Linked DNA regions of Homo sapiens: region 2 is linked to region 1. Evidence: fine-mapped expression QTL. Tissue or cell type: memory regulatory T cells. Region 1 holds a variant in brackets; the other region holds the start of a gene. All regions are shown on one strand. Distances are from middle to middle.

Region 1 (5,374 bases):
GCAGTGGCTCACGCCTGTAATCCCAGCACTTTGGGAGGCTGAGGCGGGCAGATCATGAGGTCAGGAGATCGAGACCATCCTGGCTAACATGGTGAAACCCTGTCTCTACTAAAAATACAAAAAATTAGCCAGACGTGGTGGCGGGCGCCTGTAGTCCCAGCTACTAGGGAGGCTGAGGCAGGAGAATGGCGTGAACCCGGGAGGCAGAGCTTGCAGTGAGCCGAGATTGCACCACTGCACTCCAGCCTGGGCAACAAGAGTGAGACTCCATCTCAAAAAAAAAGAAAAAAAAAATGAGGCTGAGGTGGGAGGATTGCTTGAGCCCAGGAGGTCACAGCTGCAGTGAGCCGAGATTGTGCCACTGCCTTCCAGCCTGGGAGACAGAGTGAGATCCTGTCTCAAAAAAAAAAAAATGTTGAAGATGTGAATGAATGAATGACCCCAAACTCTTATGGCTAACTTTTTTGCCACCTAGTAGACTCCAGCTGCTGCTAGGCTGGGTGTGTGTAGAATAAGGCCCTGTGAACACAGACATCCCTCTCGGGAATAAGAGCTGAGCAGTGCACTTCACGGTCCCCAGGCGGCCCACACCATCTGTTTGCTGCAGCAGGATGGCTTGGGTGGTCCATCCAGGGCCCTGCCCAGAGTCTCTTGGGGCCAAGGCTTTCCCACCCTGTCCCTCTCACTGCCCACCTCCAGGTAGGCACAGTAGGGAGGGCTGGCAGGAATGACCCAGGAGTGAAAGCAATCCTCTTGTCTTCTGGTGGGAGGATGGAGGGGCCAGGGCAAACTGTGAACCAGCCTTTGGACGGGGTACCCACCCACTTCCGTGACTCTCCTTGCCCCCCTCTGCTGGGCTCTTTAGGGAGCATCGAGCTCTCATGTTACTTTAGTGGTTGAGGCCACCCCTGGATTTCCCTCCTGAAGTGTCCCGTGTTGCAAATGGCCCTTTGTTCTTTCTTCTCTAGGGTATGGGAAATGTGGTGGCTGCCCCAGGTCTATGCAGCAGGGGAACCTGAGAGCCTCCTAAGGGAGGAGGGGCAGAGTTTTCTAGAAGCTGGTGTTCATGTAAATAACCCTGGGTGCTTCAGTGATTAGTCCCAGCTAGGAAAGTAGACAGAGAACCAACCCAATCAAGTTGTGAGAAATTGAAAGCACTCCAGCTTTCTTACAGATATTTTCTTTTTCTTTTTTTGGTCAGGGGGACGGAGTCTCGCTGTATCGCCCAGGCTGGAGTGCAGTGGCTTGATCTGGGTTCACTGCAACTTCCACCTCCCAGGTTCAAGCAATTCTCTGGCCTCAGCCTTTCAGGTAGCTGGGATTACAGGCGCATGCCACCATGCACGGTTAATTTTTGTAGTTTTAGTAGAGACAGGGATTCGCCATGTTGGCCAGGCTGGTCTTGAACTCCTGAACTCAAGTGATCTGCCTGCCCTGGCCTCCCAAAGTGCTGGGATTACAGGCGTGAGCCACTGTGCCTGGCTGATATTTTCTTTAAAATGAAATAAATATATAATTGGAGGGCATTACAGGTGATGTGAAGGTAGCAAGGCAGCTTGTGGTTTTTAAAGGAGGAGGAGTGTGGCTGTCCCTCAGTGACTCCTCTAAGTTCAATGACCTGGAGACCAAGAGAAGGGGACATTTGAGGATCTCGACCTTGTCCTTCCAGCAGGTGCTCCCAAGCCACCTCTGGGCCTGAGAATAGGCATCACATGACTCTGTTTAATCCTCCGACACAGCAAGGAGTGGCATTCTGGATCCACACTGCCTGCCTTTGAGCCCTGGCTGAAGCCTCTCTGATTCAGCCTCCTGAAGGACTTCCAGGGACTTCGCTACTTTCCCTGTCCCCTCTCACCTCCCACTATCTGCCCCCAGAGGTGTGGCTTGAGTCACCTCCTTAGGAAGTTTGTCTTTTATGTTGGATTTCTATGTAGCTCAATTACACCATGGTTATTCCTAAATGTCAGGCTTAATTTGTTGCAAGTTTTACTTGATCCCAACAGTGTGTTTTATTTACAGTAGGGAAGTCTATTCGTATAACCTCCCTCTTTTACAGTTTGTGCTTACAGAGTATGCATAACTATTCCCAATTAAAAGAAAACAAACACACACAACACTGTTGGAGTATTGCTTATAGCGCGGGGCTTTGGTAAAGCCTCACATCAGTGTGGTCCCTTTTCTCAAATTCTGCTTCATGACAAAGCCCACATACGTACACTTACACACTCCTTCAGAACGCTACAGTCTGATCTTGTAATGGCTTGGGTTTCAATTTAAGGTTGGTAGGTTGAATCACCTAAATTTTACAGATCTCCAAATAGGTCTAAAAAAGCTCCCATTCACAGAAATGTGCTTGCTTCACCCTGGAAGATACACGCGGAAATAACAGTGCTTTGGTTTTCAAGGCTTTCGTTTCTCTTTGCAGTAACTTGCTCCTCCTGTACTTAACGCAATACTCCATCAGCTAACAAGAGAAAGCGTCTCTTTTGTTTTTTTGTCTCTGCAGCTTTATTGAGGTGCAGCTGACTAATAAAAATTGTATTTATGTATTCATGGTATGCAACATGATGATTTGATATACATTGTGAAATAAG[T/C]TTTACAATCAAATTAATCACAATCAAATTAATTAGTGCATTCACCACCCCACATAATTACCGTGTGTGTGGGGTTGGGGGTAAGGACACTTAAGATCTACTCTTTTAGCAAATTTCAAGCGAGCCATGTTGTATTATTAACTATTGTCACCATGCTGTGCTTTAGATCCCCAGAACAAATTCATCTTGTAGCTGAAAGTAATCAGGTTCTATATGTGGTCCCTGGACTGAAGTCCTCTCCTCCCTGGTGGCTGGGAAACCATGTAGGACAAAGGGCATGAATGTCTTCTGGGCAGATGCTAAGTCCCTGTAACCAATTAGATTTTTCTCTTCCGTGGACTGATCCTCCTGTGGTTTCTGGGCAGAATTCAAAGTGAAATGGGTTCTACCAGCCACTCAACCAGACCACAGAGGCCCTAGGGAGGCAGCAAGCTCAGGATGGGTCCTGGGCATTGTTTTGCTTGGGGAAGTGAAACTGGCATCCTTTGCTTCAAAGGCTTCATCCCTCCTGACTTGAAGGTGTGGCCTTGACCAGAGTGACAAGATTGCAAACACTGGGGTGAAGAAAATGTATCAGGTTGCAGCCTTTTTCCTTCCAGAATATTCTCAACTTCCTGTTGCTTTTTCAAATCAGTTACATTTTCAGAAGAGACTCTTAGTTTAAAGCAGTGCCCCTCTTTAAGAGGTTGTGTTGTGTATTAATTCAAGCTGAGCTTGGCATGGAAGAGCATTCCCTCTGACCAGTAGCTTGTTTTTTTTTTCTTTCTTTCTTTTTTCTTTTTTTTTTTTCTTTTTCTTTTTGCAAGCCAGAATGGCGCTGAAGAATTCCCCAGCATGGGGTAGGGCTCAATTTCTCGGAACCTTCCAAGCCGCCTTTTTTTCCCAGTTATCCTAAATATATAGCGTTTTATAGTGTTTCTAAGCATGGGGACAAAGTGTTTTGCACCAAAGAACAGGAGTCTCAAAATAAAATATGGGCTTCCTTTGGACAAGGAACCATGGCCGCAGTTAGCATGCTGGGCAGGTTCCTGGTTCAAGCTCAATTTGAACTATTTCTAGATATGCAAGCAGTTTTATAATCTCTCTCCTTCCCCCTATTCCTTTCACCATTAAAAAAAAACCAGGCTTATAACTTTGCTGACTATCAAATCCTTTGTCCTTCCTGTTACATGCGTTACCACAGGAGCCTGCTCAAAGCTTTTCCTTTAGGGAGTTTCAATAGACACTACAGAGAGATGAGAAGGAAATTAAACTCGGTGGGGGTTGCCCCTGTACCCCGAAAGTAATTCCATGATTGAAATGCCAAAAGCCCGAACATCTCTTTCGCTGTCAGACCCAGAGAGGAGAGTGAGACAAACTTGAGTTGACGAGAATGGAACTTTAATTTCTGGGTGGTTGTTCGAAATCATCAGTCTGGTTTTGGGGAACATGACTGTCTCGAAAGTCCTTTAACTCTTTCCAGTCCCATAGCTTTTTCTTTCGAGGGTAGTGGACAAGTTAGTTTACCAGGGAAGTCATTTATTGTCCAAAATGAATTTAAGTTAAAGCTACTCATTTATTGGTGGTAAGGCAAATGGGTTCAGGCTTTCTGGAGGAGAATAGCCAAATGAATGAAAAGCCTTGAATGGCATATTCTTGACATGCTATCAGTGCATTTCTAGAAATTTCTTCTGAGGACACCATTGATAAGTTTGCCCATCCTGTGTTTATGAGACAGTGAAAAATGCAAACTGTGGAAACGCCCTTCAGGAGCAGAGTATCCCCATCCATAGAGTGGAATATTAGGGAGCTATTGAAAGTGGTGCTATAGGCTGGGCACGGTGGCTCATGCCTGTAATCCCAGCACTTTGGGAGGCCGAGGTGGGCGGATCACCTGAGGTCGGGAGTTCAAGACCAGCCTGATCAACATGGAGAAACCCCATCTCTACTAAAAATACAAAATTAGCCAGGCATGGTGGTGCACGCCTGTAGTCCCAGCTACTCGGGAGGCTGAGGCAGGAGAATCGCTTGAACCCAGGAGATGAAGGTTGCGGTGAGCCGAGATCACGCTGTTGCACTCCAGCCTGGGCAACAAGAGCGAAACTCCATCTCACACACACACACACACAAAAAAAAAAAAGGAAAAAAAGAAAAAAAGACGAGAGAGTGGTGCGTGATGCTATAGACTTATATTTGTTGATTAAGAAATCTGTCCATGATATATTGTTGTGTACAATCAATTTGTTTTAAAACCATATGAGTGCCTTACAATGTGATATCCTGGAACAGAAAAAGACATTGGTGGAAAAACAGGAGTACTCTGAATAAAATCTGTAGTTTAGTTAAAAGTAATGTACCAATGTTAATTGCTTAGTTTTGACAGATGTCCTGTGGTTATGTAAAATGTTCACATTAGGCAAAGCTGAGTGAAGGAACTCTTTGTACTATCTTTGTCAATTTTCTGTAAATCCAAAATGATTATAAAATAAATTTTTTTTCCAAAAGGCATATAAACACATTTAAGACTTTTGGAAGGATTTTAAACAAAAGATTAACCCTCTGAATGCTGGGATTATGGGTGATCTTAATTTTGTAGTTTTCAATGATAATTTTGTTAAAAGCCAAGAAAGCTCATTTGTTCTGTGAAAAGAAAGTAGCCTATAAGTATAATTTCGTTGTTCAGATACTAGAGCCCATCTCTCCATCACAATTCACAGTTGTTTCTGGGTTGAAGTCTGCCCTTCTGGGTACAGCCAGGCATGGAAGAGAGGCTATGATTAGAGCAGGGACTTTGGAATTGG
Region 2 (5,374 bases), 720 kb before region 1:
ATCTTTTAAATTCATTTGGAACAAGCTAGATGTTTGCTACTTACGGTTACAGCAAGTCAACTAGTCATTATATGAGTATAAAAAATTGTTTAAAAACCCTTAAACACGTTATTCAAGGACAGAATGGTAAAGAATAAAAAACTTAGGCCAGGAACCAAAGGTTATTTATTTATTTATTTATTTTGGAAACAGAGTCTCACTCTGTCACCCAGGCTGGAGTGCAGTGGCACAATATCTGCTCACTGCAAACTCCGCCTCCCAGGTTCAAGCAATTCTCGTCTCAGCCTCCCAAGTAGTTGGGACTACAGGGGCATGCCACCACGCCTGACTAATTTTTTGTATTTTAGTAAAGACGGGGTTTCACCGTGTCCGTGTTACCCAGACTGGTCTCGAACTCCTGAGCTCTGGCAATCCACCCACCTCAGCCCCCTAAAGTGCTGAGATTACAGGCGCGAGCTACCACGCCCACGCCCAGCCAAAGGTTACTGATTACAGCAGAGGTTTCCAAAGTGATAAATAGAATATGCACTAGGGTGTAAGAAGAAAATATTAGAATTACCACAATCAAAGAATGAGAAATGAAGCTCTACTAACATTTAGTAATATGCATATACACACACACACACACACAGATATACATAAAATGTATGCATAATGCACAAATATATACATGGCCAAGGACACAGTCCTGTTTTTCACTTATACTTTTTTTTTTTTTTTTTTGAGACAGAGTCTCACTCTGTCACCAGGCCGGAGTGCAGTGTCGGCTCACTGAAACCTCCATTTCCCAGGTTCAAGCTATTGTCCTGCCTCAGCATCCCGAGGAGCTGGGACTACAGGCATGCGCCACCACGCCAGGCTAATTTTTGTATTTTTAGTAGAGACGGGGTTTCACCATGTTGGCCAGGATGGTCTCAATCTCCTGACTTCGTGATCTGCCCGCCTTCGGCCTTCCAGTGTGCTGGGATTACAGGCGTGAGACACCACGCCTGGCCTACTTATAGTTTCTAGTACAACAGATTACTGGCAAATTAGTTTGACATCTTTGTTAAACATATACGATGTAAAAAATTAAAAAAAAAACATTTATACCATGTATATTTGTACCTGTTATTCTTTAGAGTCCAGAAAAGAAAATGTTTAATTCCAATGTTTAGTTGAAAGTTATTTCCTTTCTACATCTCTTATTCTTTCTATAAAGTTCCAGAGGGCAGGAAACATATCTATCCTGCACACAGCTGTATGTAAAAACCTAGCACTGAGCCTGGCATACAATATTTGTTCACTTAATTCTTTAGATATAAACGTTTAAATATTATTCAGTACTACAACTGATAATATCTTCTGACTACCAAAGAGATTAAAAAGGGTGACTGAAACCACTTACAAAATAGACACAATCTTCACCAATCCATTCAATAAAGCAACCAACCCACCTTATCCTGTACGAAGTCCTTCAAAACAAAACTGTTTTCTGCCAACAGATTACAGTAATCATTTTTACTTTGTTGTTGTTTGGTCTTTTTTTTTTTGAGATGGAGTCTTGCTCTATCACTCAGGCTGGAGTGCAGTGGCGCGATCTCGGCTCACAGCAACCTCAGCCTCCCAGGTTCAAACGGTTCTCCTGCCTCAGCCTCCCGCGTGGCTGGGATTACTGGGATTAAGGGCGTGCGCCACCACGCCCAGCTAATTTTAGTATTTTTAGTAGAGACGGGGTTTCACCATGTTGGCCAGGCTGGTCTTGAACTCCTGACCTCAGGTGATCCACCCGCCTCGGCCTCCCAAAGTGCTGGGACTACAGGCGTGAGCCACCGCGCCCAGCCTGCTGGGATTACAGGCGTGAGCCATCATTCTTTCTTTCTTTGGAGGTACACACTAACAGGATGAAAGCCACAGACTGTTTGTTTACAATAATACACACAAATGAAGCCAGTCCATGGACCTTCGGCTAACAACGTTAGGAAGGGCTTGACACCTGCTAGACGTTTCTGCCTCCACTCCACCTCACACTCAACCCTACTTGAAAGATCCCGGTACATTCCCACGATAACGTCTATACGTGGGTGTCTGTTTTCTTACCCGAGCTCCTCCAGGAGGATGCTAGTTTTGTGGGTGCTTCTCCCGGATCCCCATGCTTCCCCGATCACCGTTCCCGAGTGTGGCAGAATGAAACGTGAATGTCAGCCTGTGTAGGACACGATCAGACAGGTGACTTGGCAGCATGCACAGTGAGTAAACGCGGCACGATACTGAACCAAATAGAAACACAGGTTCCGGAAAGCAGAGAGTTAAGACCTCCCCAGCCTCCGGGCTCAAGGAGGACCTCAATAGTTCCACTAATCCTCACCCTCACCTCCGGCGCTCTCCAGCCGCCTTTCCCTCCTCCCGCTGCGTTACCAGCCTGCCCACCTCCCCGCACCCTTCCTTTCCCTGAAAGCTGTTCTGATTCTGCCAGCTGTTCTGATTCTGCGGAGTGGATGGGGTCGGCCCGGCAGCTCCTGGGTCAGGGACAGCCGTTCCCGCAGCCCCACCGAGGATTTCCTCCTGCGGTTCCAGGAAGACCCTCCGCCGGCCCCGGCACCCGATTCCCTACCCTCTCCGCTCAGGAGAGTCTCCCCCAGACTTAGAACGTGGGCCGCGGAAAACAAACCCGCCCTTGCAAGCTCCCCACAGAGCACCGTCCTCACCTCGGAAGACCTGAAAGCCCAGGCGGCCCCGGCGACAAGCCCCCCAGGGAAGCCCCCCAGGCCCCTGCCCAACCCCCGGCCAAGGAACCTCGTCAGGCCGTCTGCACCACTGCCGGATAGGTCCGCCTGTTTTAAAATATGTTACACGGATTCAACTCAAATACTTGTATGATATTATTATGACATAATTGAATTTATTTGAAACCTGGCTTGACTTTTATACCGTACCCTCCGTTGGCTGTGAACAGGCGAGCGCTTCTGCCACCCCAGGGGAGGTCCTTTCTCCCAGAAGCTCCTAGTCGCTCCTCCCGCTCCGAGCCCGCCTCTTCCCGTGGGCGGGGTTACCAGTCGGTGCGGTTGGGATGGTGCCACTGCGCAGCCGCGAGAGGGCGGTACCACGGCGGCAGCGACATGGGGGGGCGCGGAGCAGACGCCGGAAGTAGTGGTGGTACGGGTCCGACTGAGGGGTACTCGCCACCGGCTGCGTCCACCCGAGCGGCTGCGAGAGCCAAGGCCCGAGGGGGTGGGCGTGGCGGCCGCCGAAACACAACCCCCTCTGTTCCCTCTCTTCGCGGAGCGGCGCCGCGTAGCTTCCATCCGCCAGCTGCCATGAGCGAGCGCCTCCGTCCCAGGTGAGAGGGAAGGGACCCCCTTTCCATTCGTCGCCTGAGGATCTGGGAGATAGAGCCGAGGGGGCGCGCGAAATGGGGGTCGGAGCAAGAGTGGACCCGGCGGGGCTCCCTGTGGGGTGCACTGCGGGCCGGGGGAGGAGGGGAGAGGGATGCGCGAGTGATCGGATGCTTGGTTCCTGTGGGTAGCTGGAAGGTGACTCTCCGGGGTCCAGGTCTCCCGCCCCTCCATCTTTTTTCCCCCCTGTCTTTTCCTATTTGGAACGAAGTGTGATCGGTCCCGGAAGAGAGACGGTGGCCCTAAAGCTTTCCTGTCCTAAATTTAGGAGGGTGGGGGGATGGGATAAACGTCTCATCTTGGAGAGGGAGCCCCCAAAGGCTTTTGTGAGGGCACCGGGCGGGGAGCTGCCGGCTCCCCAAGGTCAGAAAGAAAGGTTGGGCTTAACCCCGCAGCAGGGAAAGATTCGGTTAGACCGAAGAACTTGTGCCCTGAACGGTTGTGAACACAGAAGGGCAGATGACCAAGGCGGGTTATGGATCTTCTCTTGACTGTGGCATTAAGAACAAGCTGGATTCTAAACTGTTTGGATTGCGGGGCCGTTTGACTCCGAAGGCGGGAGGAAAGATTTTATCGCGATGCACTCGCTACCTTCCCGAGGGAGCCTGGCCTCGGGACGCGGGTCTTAAATTAGGGGTTCTGTGCTTGACATGTACTACTAGAGTCCGGACTAAGTTGGGATTTCTTAATTTTTTTCTCTCTCTTAATTTCCTCTGCAAGAATGTGTGGAGGAGAAAGTTGGGAAAGGTTACCTCAGAATGCTCTTCCTGTTACGGTCTTTCCACAAGGATCCTTCTCTGAAATAATTATTTCATGTGATTGAAGTTCTCAAAAGTATTCTGAGTTTATTTGGTCCCATAGTGAAAACCTAGGGTTCCCCAAGCTGCTGCATTGGATTATTGATTTGGGTCATGTAGCAGGTGGAGCATAAAGCCTCTCCTTGTATAGAAAAGAAGAGTGGACTAAATTTGAAATTGGGGGCCCAATTACAGACATGCCATCGGAATTAGGAGCAAGATCTTTAGATACAGTGAATCTGACCCGACTGCCATATTATTCTTTCCCAAACCCAGTTTATACTTACGATATTCTCTTGGGGTGTCTCACATATCTGAAAAAAAATCTAAATATTTCCTACAAATAAAAATTCTACTGTACATAACTAATCTGAATGCATTTATACTGGCAGTAGATTCCTTTTATCTTGTACACAAATAATCTCAACATGTTTTAAAGAAGTTATTTGATTTGGACAGGCTTTTCCTGCCAGTGTTTAATGGAGTATGATGGGCCAGCTCTGCCAGCTCTAGGATGGTCTAAGACGGTGGTTTTTCGGCTGGGTGCGGTGGCTCACGCCTGTAATCCCAGCACTTTGGGAAGTCAAGGCGGGCGGATCACCTGAGGTCAGGAGTTGGAGATCACTCTGGCCAACATGGTGAAACTCTGTCTCTACTAAAAATACAAAAAAATTAGTTGGGCCTGGTGGTGGGCACCTTCATCCCAGCTACTTGGGAGGCTAAGGCAGGAGAATCGCTTGAACCTGGAAGGCGGAGGTTGCAGTGAGCGGAGATCACTGCACTCAAGCCTGAGCAACAAGAGCGAAACTTCCATCTAAAAAAAAAAAAGGGTTTTCAGGCTCTCCCACAGTAGATTGGATAGCCGCAGAGAGGTGAGTGTGTAGTGAGGGAGTCCCTGCTTATTGATTGATTGATTGGTTGATTGATTGACTGATTGATTGACAGAGTCTCACTCTGTCGACCAGGCTGGAGTGCAGTGGCCCCATCATGCCTCACTGCAGCCTCAACCTCCCAGGCTCAGGTGATCCTCCCACGTCAGCCTCCTGAGTAGCTGGAGCACAGGTGTGAGCTACCACACCCAGCTAATCTGTGTATTTTTGGTAGAGGTGGGGTTTCACTATATTGCCCAGGCTGGTCTTGAACTCCTGGGCTCAAGGGATCCACCCGCCTCGGCATCCCAAAGTGCTGGGATTACAGATGTGA

Evidence for each region. PIP is the estimated chance that this variant, and not a neighbour inherited with it, causes the effect.
Region 2: it holds the start of VCF1, and the variant in region 1 is the best candidate, but not a certain one, in a credible set for the expression of VCF1 in memory regulatory T cells (Schmiedel 2018, PIP 0.60).

What each region holds. Positions count from the first base shown.
Region 1 is chr17:72,508,435-72,513,808 of GRCh38, reverse strand. The region is part of intron 1 of LINC00673 (long intergenic non-protein coding RNA 673); the gene reads left to right. Among named protein-coding and RNA genes, the nearest start is that of LINC00673, 82 kb to the left of the region's middle. RefSeq lists an enhancer at 2,839-2,968. The variant T/C (reference allele first, on the strand shown) is at 2,595.
Region 2 is chr17:73,230,031-73,235,404 of GRCh38, reverse strand. It overlaps VCF1 (VCP nuclear cofactor family member 1), which reads left to right and starts at 3,011. Exons shown (of 4, transcript NM_001098832.2): 1 at 3,011-3,319. The coding sequence starts at 3,099. It overlaps MTNAP1 (mitochondrial nucleoid associated protein 1), which reads right to left and starts at 2,972. Exons shown (of 6, transcript NM_001351264.2): 1 at 2,916-2,972; 2 at 2,080-2,185. RefSeq lists an enhancer at 3,518-4,294.